4 separate regions of the Homo sapiens genome follow, and all the other regions are linked to region 1. Evidence: fine-mapped expression QTL. A gene starts in region 1. Each other region holds a variant in brackets. All regions are shown on one strand. Distances are from middle to middle.

Region 1 (2,683 bases):
GGGACCTGAGGATCTCATCCTGCCGTCCGCTAGCACGTGCACCTGGGTCGACAATAACACAGTGGGCCTTAGGAGTCCAGCACCCATTTTCCACAGAGACAGCCCCGTAGCCCATGGCAACCAAGGAGCCAATGGGTGGCCAAGAATCTGGCGCTGCCATGGCGATGAGCTCCCTTCCCTGGTAATAGAATGGAGTAGAGTGGATAGGGAAAGACCTGCACCTGTGAGGGGCCCCCCAGAGACCACCTCCCCGCCCCCTTCCCAGGCAAATGGGAAAGCCCAGCCATCCTTGAGATAGACCACAGTGCCTGGCAGCAGAGGGTGGGGGGCTTCCCTGAGTGTGCCTGGATTCTTGAGTGCCTTTCTGCATGTGAGGGCAGTTCTATGTACTGTGAGCTGGTGTGTGTCTAGGTATAGACCTGCTAGCAAGTAGATTATTCAGTGTCTGAAAGAGACTGAGTAGCACTTGTGAGTGAGAAGCAGGTGTCAGTTATTCTCCAGATACAGGAGGTGGACGTGCACAGATATGCAGGCATGTGTCTTTGTGAGCCCAAGAATTCTTGTGTGTAGAATATACGGGTGCATGTCCACATGACCACTGGTGTGCTCTTGGTTCAGAATAACTGTCTTCACGGATCCATGCTTTGAGAGTGTGAACCGACCAGCAGGAGCGTCTTTGGCCCAAGGCAGGGACGTCCTGTGGGTGCATGCGTGCAGATGTATGAGCGTGTGCGCGCACCCTGCACAGGCGTGTGACTGGGGTTCTGGGCCTAGGAGGGGGCTCAGAGCAGTGTGGACTCCTTCCCCAGGCGGCCACATGGTGCTGCCTGACCCAACAAGGCCCACACAGGCCCCTTCCAGCAACCCTGGCAGATAAGGGGGTGGAGCGGGGCAGGCGGGAGCAGTCCGCAGGGGCCCTCAAAGTTGAGGGAGGAAGGACCAGCGACTCCAACCCGCGCCCCAGTGCTGGGATAGGTGGGGAGGGCAGCGGTGCCCTGCGCCCCGGCCGCGTATCCCCAGCCAGCTCACGTCCCGAGTCGGGAGTGGTGGGCGCCCCGGCCCGGCGCCCGCGTACCTGTAGGGAATCCAGTCGGAATGCGGCTTGGAAGTCATGTCTCTCGGGGGCGGGGCGGTGGCTGCGGCTCTGGAGGCCGGGGCCCGGAGGGGCCGGCGCGGGGGCCCTGCTCAGCTCCCGGGCCGCCCCGGGCCGCATCCTCCCGGGCCGGGGCGCTGGGCCCCGCCGAGGCCCGCGCTGCACGCCAGGGCCCCGGCTGCTGGCTCTGCGAGCGGCTGCCTGCGCGGCGCGGCGAGGCGAGATGGGCGAAGCTCCGGGAGTGCGCGGGTCGTGCGCGCGCGTGGAGGCGGGGAGGCCGACCGCACCGTCCCGCGCCCCTCTGGCGCCAAGGCGGGAGTACTGCGTGGCAGCGGCGGCCTGCCCCTTCTCCCTCGCCCCGCCCCGCCCCGCCCCGCAGAGACCCCACCCCCCGGCCGGCTCAGGGCCTGCGGAGCGCCCTTGCCCCCTCCCCCGAAATCGTCGCGATCCACGCTCCATGCGCGTGACCGCGCCGGCTCCCACCTTCGGCTAACGGCGGCGCTGCAGCCGGGCCAGTCCCCAGGCCTCCCAGCCTCAGTTTCGTCTTCTGTGAAACGGGGATCATTCGAACACCTCCCTGTGTACCTGCCCTACCTATCTGCGCTATGGGATGGGAAACCGATGCGCGGATTTGGCGGGGCAGGGACCGGGCCGGAGGCGCGGATGGAGAAGGAATCCAGTCGTGCAGGAAGAGGCGGGGGAACCTCCGGGCCGAAGCGTGGAGGTTGGCCTTCCCTCACCCCCACCTCCGAGTTCCCACACCCCCGCCTGGGGAACCCTCTGTCTTTGGGTTAAGGAGGTGTTTCCTCAGCAGTGGCTCCCTCCCATCTAAGCTATAGCGTCAAGGGAAGGGGAACATTTACGGTCTATTGCATTCCCAGCCCTTGCAAATTTCTAGTATGTAATCTCCACAGTAGCCTTGAGAGACAAACATCATATCCCTATAACCCAGAGAATAGGAATGCTGAGATGCCCAAGGCCGTAAAGCTAGGAAGTGGTGGAGCTGAAACTGTTCTGTGATCTGTGTCCTCCAAAGCCCTTCCTAAGGGGCGCAGTTGACCGGAGGCAAAAACCCCTACAAAGATCATCTGAAAGTCTCTGCGCGCTGAGGAGGTCCTGGCTGTGACTAGGACCAGCTTGAATGCAAGGCATGGCACACTGAGAAGGTGCGGGACCCACAGCAGGGCGGGCGGAAGCAAGGAGCAGCAGGCTGAGGGGTCACCAAGGCCTGCGTGTGGAGCAGGTGATCCGGGAGAGGTCTGCGGAGGGGCACGGTCCCCACACGCCCCGTGGGCGTCCTCGTGTGCATCCTGGATTCTGCCGCGCCAACCGCGCCAGAAGAGTGTTGTGCGGGGATCTTCTGATGATAAATAGGCGGTCAGGACTGCCCCGCAGAGAGTGTGAGAACAGCCAAGGGGGCTGAGGGAGGGGGCTCATCCTGCTGCCCTGGGGCTACAGCCAGACCCCCACCCCAGGGCTCTCCCAGCCCTTCAGCCTTGCCTTCTCTTGCCCATTAATTATAAAACACAATAACCCACAATATTTGGATTATTTGCTGGGCGTCAGGAGCTGTGTTAGGTGCTACGTACA
Region 2 (2,683 bases), 46 kb after region 1:
ATCAACTGTAGATGAAGCCAGCTTCCTCCAGGGAGGTCCATTCTTACCTTAAGGCTGGACCATGGGGCCCGTGCTACTGAGACTTGTGCCATGACCCCCTGGAGGACAACCGGGGAAAGATGGTCAAACAGAACCTCAGGGCTGGATAAACTGCATCTCTCAAGGGTCATAGCTCCCTGGGGCAGGCAGCCCTTTTGAGGCTAAGCTGCTGGATGGTGATTATGAAACCTCCTCATGCACACTCTGAGCATCAGGGTGTTTGCTCTTCCCAGAGCGGTCCCTCCATCTTTGTAGTTGGCCATTGCTGCTTCACCTAAAGCTCAAACACACCTCCCTTCAGTCCTAGTTCTGTCCTCCATGGCCCCACAGAACATGACTCTTCAGTCGGTCACAGTGCTTTGCATTAGTGCACTGAATGGTGAGCACAGCCTTCTAAGAAGGATGCTATCATTGATATTTCACAAAAGGGGAACCTAGGACTCAGAGAGGGGAATTTAAGTGGCAGAGTGCATAGGAGGAACAGGAACCATGTATTCCTATCTGCAGGAAAATAGAATGACTTACTACTGCCAGGCTAGATGACCAGCTGGCTCTGTGCTGCAGTAGGGGCTCAGAAGGGAGATTACAGAGTGGAACAGGCAGGGCAGAGGTGCTTCTGATACATGTCCCCTGAGACCCTCAGGCCTCCCACCGTGACAGGCATCTGGACACTGTGACCAGCTGGCCTAGGCCTGGACCTCGACATAACAGTGTCTCAAGTCCCAGATATAATTTGGCATCTTGGGTACCCCTTCAACACTGATCTTTCTAAAATGTCTGTTTACCTTTTAGGCTAGTGGAGCACAGCCAGGGGAGGACAGGAGGAGGGTATTCTCTGGAGACAGGTGTGCCCCCCTACTGACAGACCCTGCTCAGCAGAACAGAAGCCCTTCAGCGAATGAGACCTACCCTCTGCGGAAGGCTGGTTAGGAAGCATCCATGTCTACTTCAGCGTCTCACCTCCCTGTCACAAACAGATCACCACAGTTTTCCTCCAGCCTCATGCTGTCCTCCCCCTAGAGGAATGTGGGTACATGGAATGTTCTCCACCTCCATGCATGTCCAGTGACGTTTTGGATCAGCGTGTCAGGGACGCTGTCAGGCGTGCCTGCTTGCACTCATCCAGCCCTGGCTGGATGTGATTCTACGAGCAGAGCAAGACCAGCATGTTCTGTCCTCCAGTTATCACAGCAGTTACTCTGGCAACCTGCAGGCCCTCCCTGAGGTGTCTGACGGCTGAAGCAGGGTCCAGTGGGATGGAATGAAGGATGGGCACCCTGGAAGACAGCCCATGGAGGGGCCCTTTGGGTCCCCTGCTGCCCTGGGCACCTGCGAAGAGAGAAGCTGAGCCACCCTGCCTGAGGCAGTAGGCAGTAAGAGCTGAAGGGAGCAGGAGGTTAGGGCCCAGCGGGAAGTGAGAGCAGTGGGGCCAGCACCAGGGTAA[G/A]CTGAATAAAGCTCTCGCCTGAGGCGCAGAATTTAAAGATTTGCCAAAAAACTCAGCAGCCAAGAAATTTAATACTTCCAGCAAATCAAAGCAAAACTGTCCATGATAAACAAGACTGGAGTTAGGGTAAGGCAAGTGAGGCCAATACAAGGCCCGCAAATCCAGTGTTGTATCTTGTCTTTATTAAAGGTTTGATTTTGTTGTATGTGCTTTGCATTCATTTTGATTTAAAAAAATACTATATTGAAATATCATTTATCTTAATTACTGAGCTTGTTCGAGGTCCTTTGAATGTTGCACTTGAGGTCAATGTCTTTCTAGCCTCACCCTAGTCTCAGCCCTGGAGGGGAGGGACAGACTGAGTCAGGAGCAGGAAGGAGCACAGTGCCATTGAAAACGCATCATGCGACAAGGAGCCGGGAGACATGGGTTCCCATCTGTCCCCTTCACAGATTCTCCTCAGTTCTGATAGAATCAGATTCAGATTTCACAAGACTGCAACATGAATATTGCTGCTGGGGAGCACAGGTGCCTAGCATGCACATGGACCCCCTCCATACAGGGTGATAGTGAGTCATAAGGTGGCACCCACCTCCTGCCCTCCGTCAGGTTGTCTGCTAAGGGGAGGAGATGGGAGAAGAAGGGGAGAGGGGAATGGAGGGGGTGGGCAGGGAAGAAGCTGGCAAGTTTGCATGACTGGGAGCAGGAATGGCAGATGAGCTGTAATTGCCTGAAGCTGAGAGAGGCTGTTGATAAATGTTACTAATAATCAACCTTCAGATCTGACACCCAGCTCAGGCTGGGATTACTGTTTTGAATGGAAATTGAACCCAAACCAATAATTACCCTGGTGAGCGATGCCAGTCTTACTCTGGAGCCTGTTTTAGGCAGGGAAATCGCACCTGCATGTCAGTACCAGCCCATGAGGTAGATGATCCAGCAAAGGACTCCCTCCTGGGGTCACACCAAGAGCACAAACTGGCCTGGACTCTGCCAACACAATGGGCCACAGTATCAACAGGAATGCTCACCCTCTTCCTAGAGCTTACAGTGGGTGAGGGACTCCCACCCATCATTGTCAATCTTCAAGCAGAGTCCAGACCTCAGACCCCACTCCCACTGTCCTTCCCCCTTGGGCTTCATGGAAGTCCCTTGTTGACATCATCCCATGCTGTCAGAGCAGGTGCTTAGGGGGAGGGG
Region 3 (2,683 bases), 52 kb after region 1:
CCCCAAGCACATGCTGGGCCAGAATCTCCCAGCTGAGACTCAGGCTCAGGATTTTCCAGAGTGAAGGCAGTAAGTATCAACAGATACCCATGAGCCCCTACTTGGCAACTGTTCTCCAGACTGTAGGCATAGCTGGAGCTTCCTTCCACTTTTGGTCACAGATACAATGTCCCTGCCCAAGGTCTTTTTGCATTTGTTGGACTGCATCCAGTGACCCTATCTGGAAAACCACAGTGCCTGATGATGTCAAACTTCAGCGCGGGCAAGTCCCAAGGGATCTGAAAAGTCCATGCCCCACCTCCATACCCGACTCCCCTCTCCACCATAAATCACCCTGAGCCCCAGTTACACCAGCTGGATGGGAAACAGACCACCCCCCACTCACTGCCCTCTAACGCCATTCCTCATCGACCCTCTGTACACTGCCCTCATTTGCCCCATCCAGTCCAGCTGTCTTGGTACTGTACTGCTATAAATCCATCAAAAGAGAAGTAGCTGCACTCAAAAAGTTCTAAAACAAAGCAGAGCCTCCAGCCCCCTGCCTCTGGTAGCCACCCGACTCCTCTGGCCAGCAACCCCTAAGCTGGCACTGCCACGGCCAGGACCTCCAATCCCAGCTGTCCTGTTCTCATCCCTCCACCCTGGCCTTTCCTATCACAGAACACACACCGAGGCCATAGGTCATATACTCACAGAATGTCAGAACTAGAGAGTGCTCAGACAGGCTGGGTGTGGTGGCTCATACCTGTAATCCCAGCACTTTGGGAGGCTGAGGCGGGCAGATCACCTGAGGTCAGGAGTTTGAGACCAGCCTGACCAAATTGGTGAAAACTCGTCAATACCAAAAATACAAAGATTAGCCAGGCATTGTGGTGGGCACCTGTCATCCCAGCTACTCAGGAGGCTGAGGCAGGAGAATTACCTGAACCTGAGAGGCAGAGGTTGCAGTGAGCCGAGGTCGCACCACTGCACTCCAGCCTGGGAGAAAGAGCGAGACTCTGTCTCAAAAAAAAAAAAAAAAAAGAAAGAAAGAAAAAGAAAAGAACCTGAGGGCCCAAACTTTAAAAGTGGAAGAAGCACATATTTTGTTAAGTTCTCCTCGAAAGGTAAAGTCAGCTTAGTACGAAAGGCTACTTTTACAATAAGAATTTGGCTACTTCTTCAACTCAACAAAAACCTAACTGTGCAGAGAATATCACCAGCAACTGCATGCTTTGTTTGGGAACCCGGGGCCAGAAAAAAGCCACAAGAAGATATGTTGCAGAAGAGACCAGTGTGGGCCAGAATCCACCTTTGGTCACAGATATAGTGTAAAACAAGAGTCAAGAGTCCAGAAATAAACCCATACATTTATGGCTAATTTTGGGGTTTGTTTTTTGTTTTGTTTTGTTTTTGTTTCTTGAGACAGGTCTTGGTCTGTTGCCCAGGCTGGCATGCAGTGGTGTGATCACGGTTCACTGCAACCTCAACCTTCCAGGCTCA[G/C]GTGATCTTCTCACCTCAGCCTCCCAAGCAGCTGGTACTATAGGCATGTGCCACAACGCCCAGCTAATTAAAAAATAAATTTTATGGAGACAGGGTCTCACTACGTTGTCCAGGCTGGTCTCAAACTCCTAGACTCCAAGCAATCCTCCTACCCGAGCCTCCCAAAATGCTGGGATTACAGGCATGAGCCACTGTGCCCGACTCACCAGTTGATTTTTGACCAGGGTGCCAAGTCCATTCAGTGAGAGAAAAAGTAGAAACAAATAGTGCTGAGACAACTGGATTTTCTTTCATGCAAAAGAATGAAATTGGACCACAACTCATACTATATACAGAAATTAACTCAAAATGGATCACTGACATAGATACAAGCTCTAAAACTACAAAACACTGAAGAAAACAGGTAAATCTTCATGGTCCTGGATTTGGCAATGGATTCTTAGATATGACACTATAAGCATAACCAACAGAAAAAAGACAAATTGGACTTCATCAAAATTAAAGCTTGTGCTTCAAAGGACCTTATCAAGAAAGTGAGAAGACAACAATGGGGAAAAACATTTGCAAATCATACATCTGAGAAGAATTTAATATTGAAAATATGTAAAGAACTCCTATAACTCAACAACAAAAAGACAAACAACCTAATTAAAAATGATAAGAACTTAGACATTTCTCTAAGACATAAATGGTCAGATAAGCACAAGAAATAATACTAATCATTTGTCACTGAGGAAATGCAAATCAAAACCATGATAAGATACCACTTCCTAGACTATACTAGGATGGCTATAATAATAATTATAATAACAACCCAGAAATTAACAGGTTATTGGTGAGAAGGTGAAGAAATGGGAACCCTTGTACATTGCTGGTGGAAATGTAAAATGGTGCAGTCTTTGTAGAAAACAGTTTCACGGTTTCTCAAAAAGCTAAAGATAGAATTATCATTACCAAACAGCAATTCTACTCCTAGGTTTATACTACCCAAAAGAATCTAAGACGGACTCAAATAGATATGCGCGCACCAATGTTCACTGGAGCATTTTCACAATAGCCAAAAGGTAGAAACAATCCAAGTGTCCATCAACAGATGAATGTATAAACAAAATGCTGGCTGTGCACAGTGGCTCACGCCTGTAATCCCAGCACCTGGGGAGGCTGAGATGGGCGGATCACTTGAGGTCAGGAGTTCAAGACC
Region 4 (2,683 bases), 62 kb after region 1:
TGTCGAAGATGCAGGGAGGTTTTTGGCAGAGTTAAGGGAAGGAGAGCACAGGAAGCAGGACTTCACGGAGATGAGAGCAGCCCAGTAAATGAAGTTTGTCTTCCAGCCCTCACCATCTAGGGTCATGGGTCAGGAAATTTAACTCCAGAATTCTGCAGATGGACTTGGGGTTACGAAACTTAAAAACAACAAACAAACAAACTACTATCTACTATCATCATGGTTTCATTTTAAATACAAGGGTGGCATTTAACACACCAACAAAAGGTAGAACAGGCATAACCTAGGAATAAATGTACTCGGCTTTATGACCAACTCACTCCGTTCTTATTTTTTTCATTTCGCCTGGGAGGATGACTCCTTCCTCCAGGACGAGTGCGTGGGGAGCGCAGCTCCAAACCGCCCACGCCGGCAGCCGCTCGCCATCCCCGCGGGGCGGGCGCGGAGCCTGGCAACTCGAGAGCGCCGCTCCTGCGCCCAGACAGCCGGCCCAGGCTGCCATCTCGCCCCGCGGAACAGGCAGCGACTCGCGGGTCCCCGGCAGCCAGCGGGACACTCCGCCCGGGGCCAGCCTCGGTCCCTGCGGAGGGCCGGCGGGGCGCAGACGCCGGCGGGCGCATCCCAGAGCCGAAGGCGCCCCCTCCTCGCCCCGCCCGCCAGGGGCCCACCCCGGCCCCTGCCCCGCCCCTCCCGGCGCCCCCTCCGCGCCCTTTCTCGGGGTCCCCCGGCGGAGCGACCCTGGCGGGGCAGCTGGGGTGGGGGCAGAGGTGCCAGCTCGCTAGTCCCAGTGGCCGCGTGCCCTCCTCCGACAGCTCTGCCCCGTGGGTGTGGGGACACTACCCTCGCTGGAGCTCCGCTGCGCCGTACCCGAGGCTCTGGGTCCCGGATGCCCGAGGGTCCGGGTGCCCAAGCCCACCCTGGGGGTCGGGCGCTCGCGCCAGTCCTAGCCCCCGGAGGCCCGCTTCTCCCGCAGGAGATCGAGGGTCAGCAGGCGCTCACGCAGGGCCACCCTTCGGGCGCCCTACCTGTCATAGCTCCAGCGGCTGTAAGACAGGGTCCGGTGGCTGCTGACTCCCTCCATCGCCGCCTCCGGCTCCGCTCGGGGCTCCGCGGGCGGCGGCGGCGCTGGGCTTGGGGCTGGCTCGCAGGCTGCGGGCCCGGCCGAGGCGCGGGCGGAGGACTGTACCATTCGCCCCCCGGGGGGTGACCCCCTCCGGCTCTGCCAATGGCGGGGACGCGCGACTGCGGGGACCCGGGCCCGTGAGGCCCCCTCCCCCTCGCTCGGGTCCCGCGGGGGCGCGGCTGCGGCAGCCTGGGCGCTTATTTATTTATTTCCGAGGTGTGCTCCGCGTCGCCATGACAACCGCTCCATCTTTTCCGGCGTCACTAGGGCACCGCTGCTTTCAAACCTTC[C/G]CGGGACAGGGGTTGCTAAGAGGCTGCTCCGGCTCCTGCTTGCTTGGGAGTCCCGGATCCGCTGTCGCCACTCGGGGCCCTTCCGCAGAGGCGCCCTCCTTTCCGGCGTGGGAGTCTTCAGCCAACCTCCCACAATCAAGTTCCCCCCTTCTCAGGAATGGAAATAGCCATCCCCCAATTTCCTAGATTCCCGCCGTCTCCCCGTCCCTTCTTCCCCAGGGTGGAAGTCTTGAAACCACCGTCCCCTCCTCTCTTCCAACTGCCTCCCTCCTTACTGAGAATGGAAATCCACTACTCCCTCCCTCTCTCCCGGGTGGATTCCCTCGGCCCTGCTATCTGGTCTATTACGGCCCTCTTGGGTTCCGAAGACCAAGCTCTGTAAACACTCCCATTTCTAGGCCACCTTGTTCTGTTTATGTCCCTTGTGCTTTCTCTTCATTACTACTAAAAATCCTTTGGAAAAAGTCCAAGTGTCTTGGCTCAGCCAGGGAAGAGCTTGTCTGACAGTGACCCAGGGAAGGCTATGGCGAGAAAGCCCGCCTGGGTGGGGCGGGGTGGGGAGGGGTGGGGCAGGGAGAGCCAGCTCGCGCCTTCTTGTCTGCCCCGGGCCCCCAGTCCCTTCCCATCCCCCATCTTAGGCTGATGGCTTTAGGGATTTACAGGTATAATCTTCTTGCAGAGGTCACAAGAGCCTAAGAAGGACCTTTCGGGCAGTTGCTGTGGGGTGGCTGGCTAACTTCACGCCAGGGTCAGGGTGGGGTGGAGGTGCCAGGAGGCTGGAGCGCGAGGAGGGGGAGGTAGGGTTTGCGCTACGCTAATCCAAGGATCCTGACAACTCCTGTGAACTAGAGCTAACCCTATGGGTTACAGAGGTTGCAACTGGCAGTGCACCTGTTGCATCCAGCCCACAATCACAGGGAAAAAATGCTTTTCACTGAATAAATGGACAACACTTAAAAATTGGGAGATTTAATAGATCTAGCTTTTTATCCTCTCTTGAAAACTAAGAATGTCTGCCAGTGCTGGGCCTGTCTTCAGCATGGCAGGCATAGAGCGCAGTAGTGGCTGTCCTCTGCACCGGGAGCAGGGAATATGTTGTTCTATAAGCCTCTGGCCCTAGCTGGCCAGCTTTTCTCTTACATGACTTGCTTGGTCCTTATAGCTTTTAAGTTTACCATTTCTGTGCAATACAGCCATCTCTATAACCACTGAAGTACCCAACTTGCTCATAGAGCTACCCAAACGCATCATTAACCAATATTTACCAAGG

Which allele goes with the higher level. Alleles are on the strand shown, and positions count from the first base shown. SD is a standard deviation of normalised expression in the study named. Not every link is listed here.
As copies of G replace A in region 2, the expression in ovary of the gene that starts at base 1,413 in region 1 goes down (moderate effect, 0.73 SD a copy in GTEx).
For the expression in thyroid of the gene that starts at base 1,413 in region 1, G is the low allele of the variant in region 3 and C is the other (moderate effect, 0.67 SD a copy in GTEx).

The links.
Region 2: its variant is fine-mapped to the expression of TUB in ovary (GTEx, PIP above 0.99).
Region 3: its variant is fine-mapped to the expression of TUB in thyroid (GTEx, PIP 0.94).
Region 4: its variant is fine-mapped to the expression of TUB in whole blood (TOPMed, PIP above 0.99). The same link has a PIP of 0.9 or more in blood mononuclear cells.

Annotation. Positions count from the first base shown.
Region 1 is chr11:8,079,941-8,082,623 of GRCh38, reverse strand. TUB (TUB bipartite transcription factor) reads right to left here and starts at 1,413. Exons shown (of 12, transcript NM_177972.3): 1 at 1,076-1,413. The coding sequence starts at 1,113.
Region 2 is chr11:8,034,207-8,036,889 of GRCh38, reverse strand. LOC124902627 (a long non-coding RNA gene) reads left to right here. Exons shown (of 2, transcript XR_007062581.1): 2 at 832-1,688. It also overlaps a transcript of TUB not described here. Among named protein-coding and RNA genes, the nearest start is that of CASC23, 19 kb to the right of the region's middle. RefSeq lists an enhancer at 651-1,215. The variant G/A (reference allele first, on the strand shown) is at 1,484.
Region 3 is chr11:8,027,729-8,030,411 of GRCh38, reverse strand. It overlaps a transcript of TUB not described here. Among named protein-coding and RNA genes, the nearest start is that of CASC23, 13 kb to the right of the region's middle. The variant G/C (reference allele first, on the strand shown) is at 1,483.
Region 4 is chr11:8,017,701-8,020,383 of GRCh38, reverse strand. It overlaps a transcript of TUB not described here. Among named protein-coding and RNA genes, the nearest start is that of CASC23, 2.5 kb to the right of the region's middle. RefSeq lists a silencer at 1,118-1,187. The variant C/G (reference allele first, on the strand shown) is at 1,414.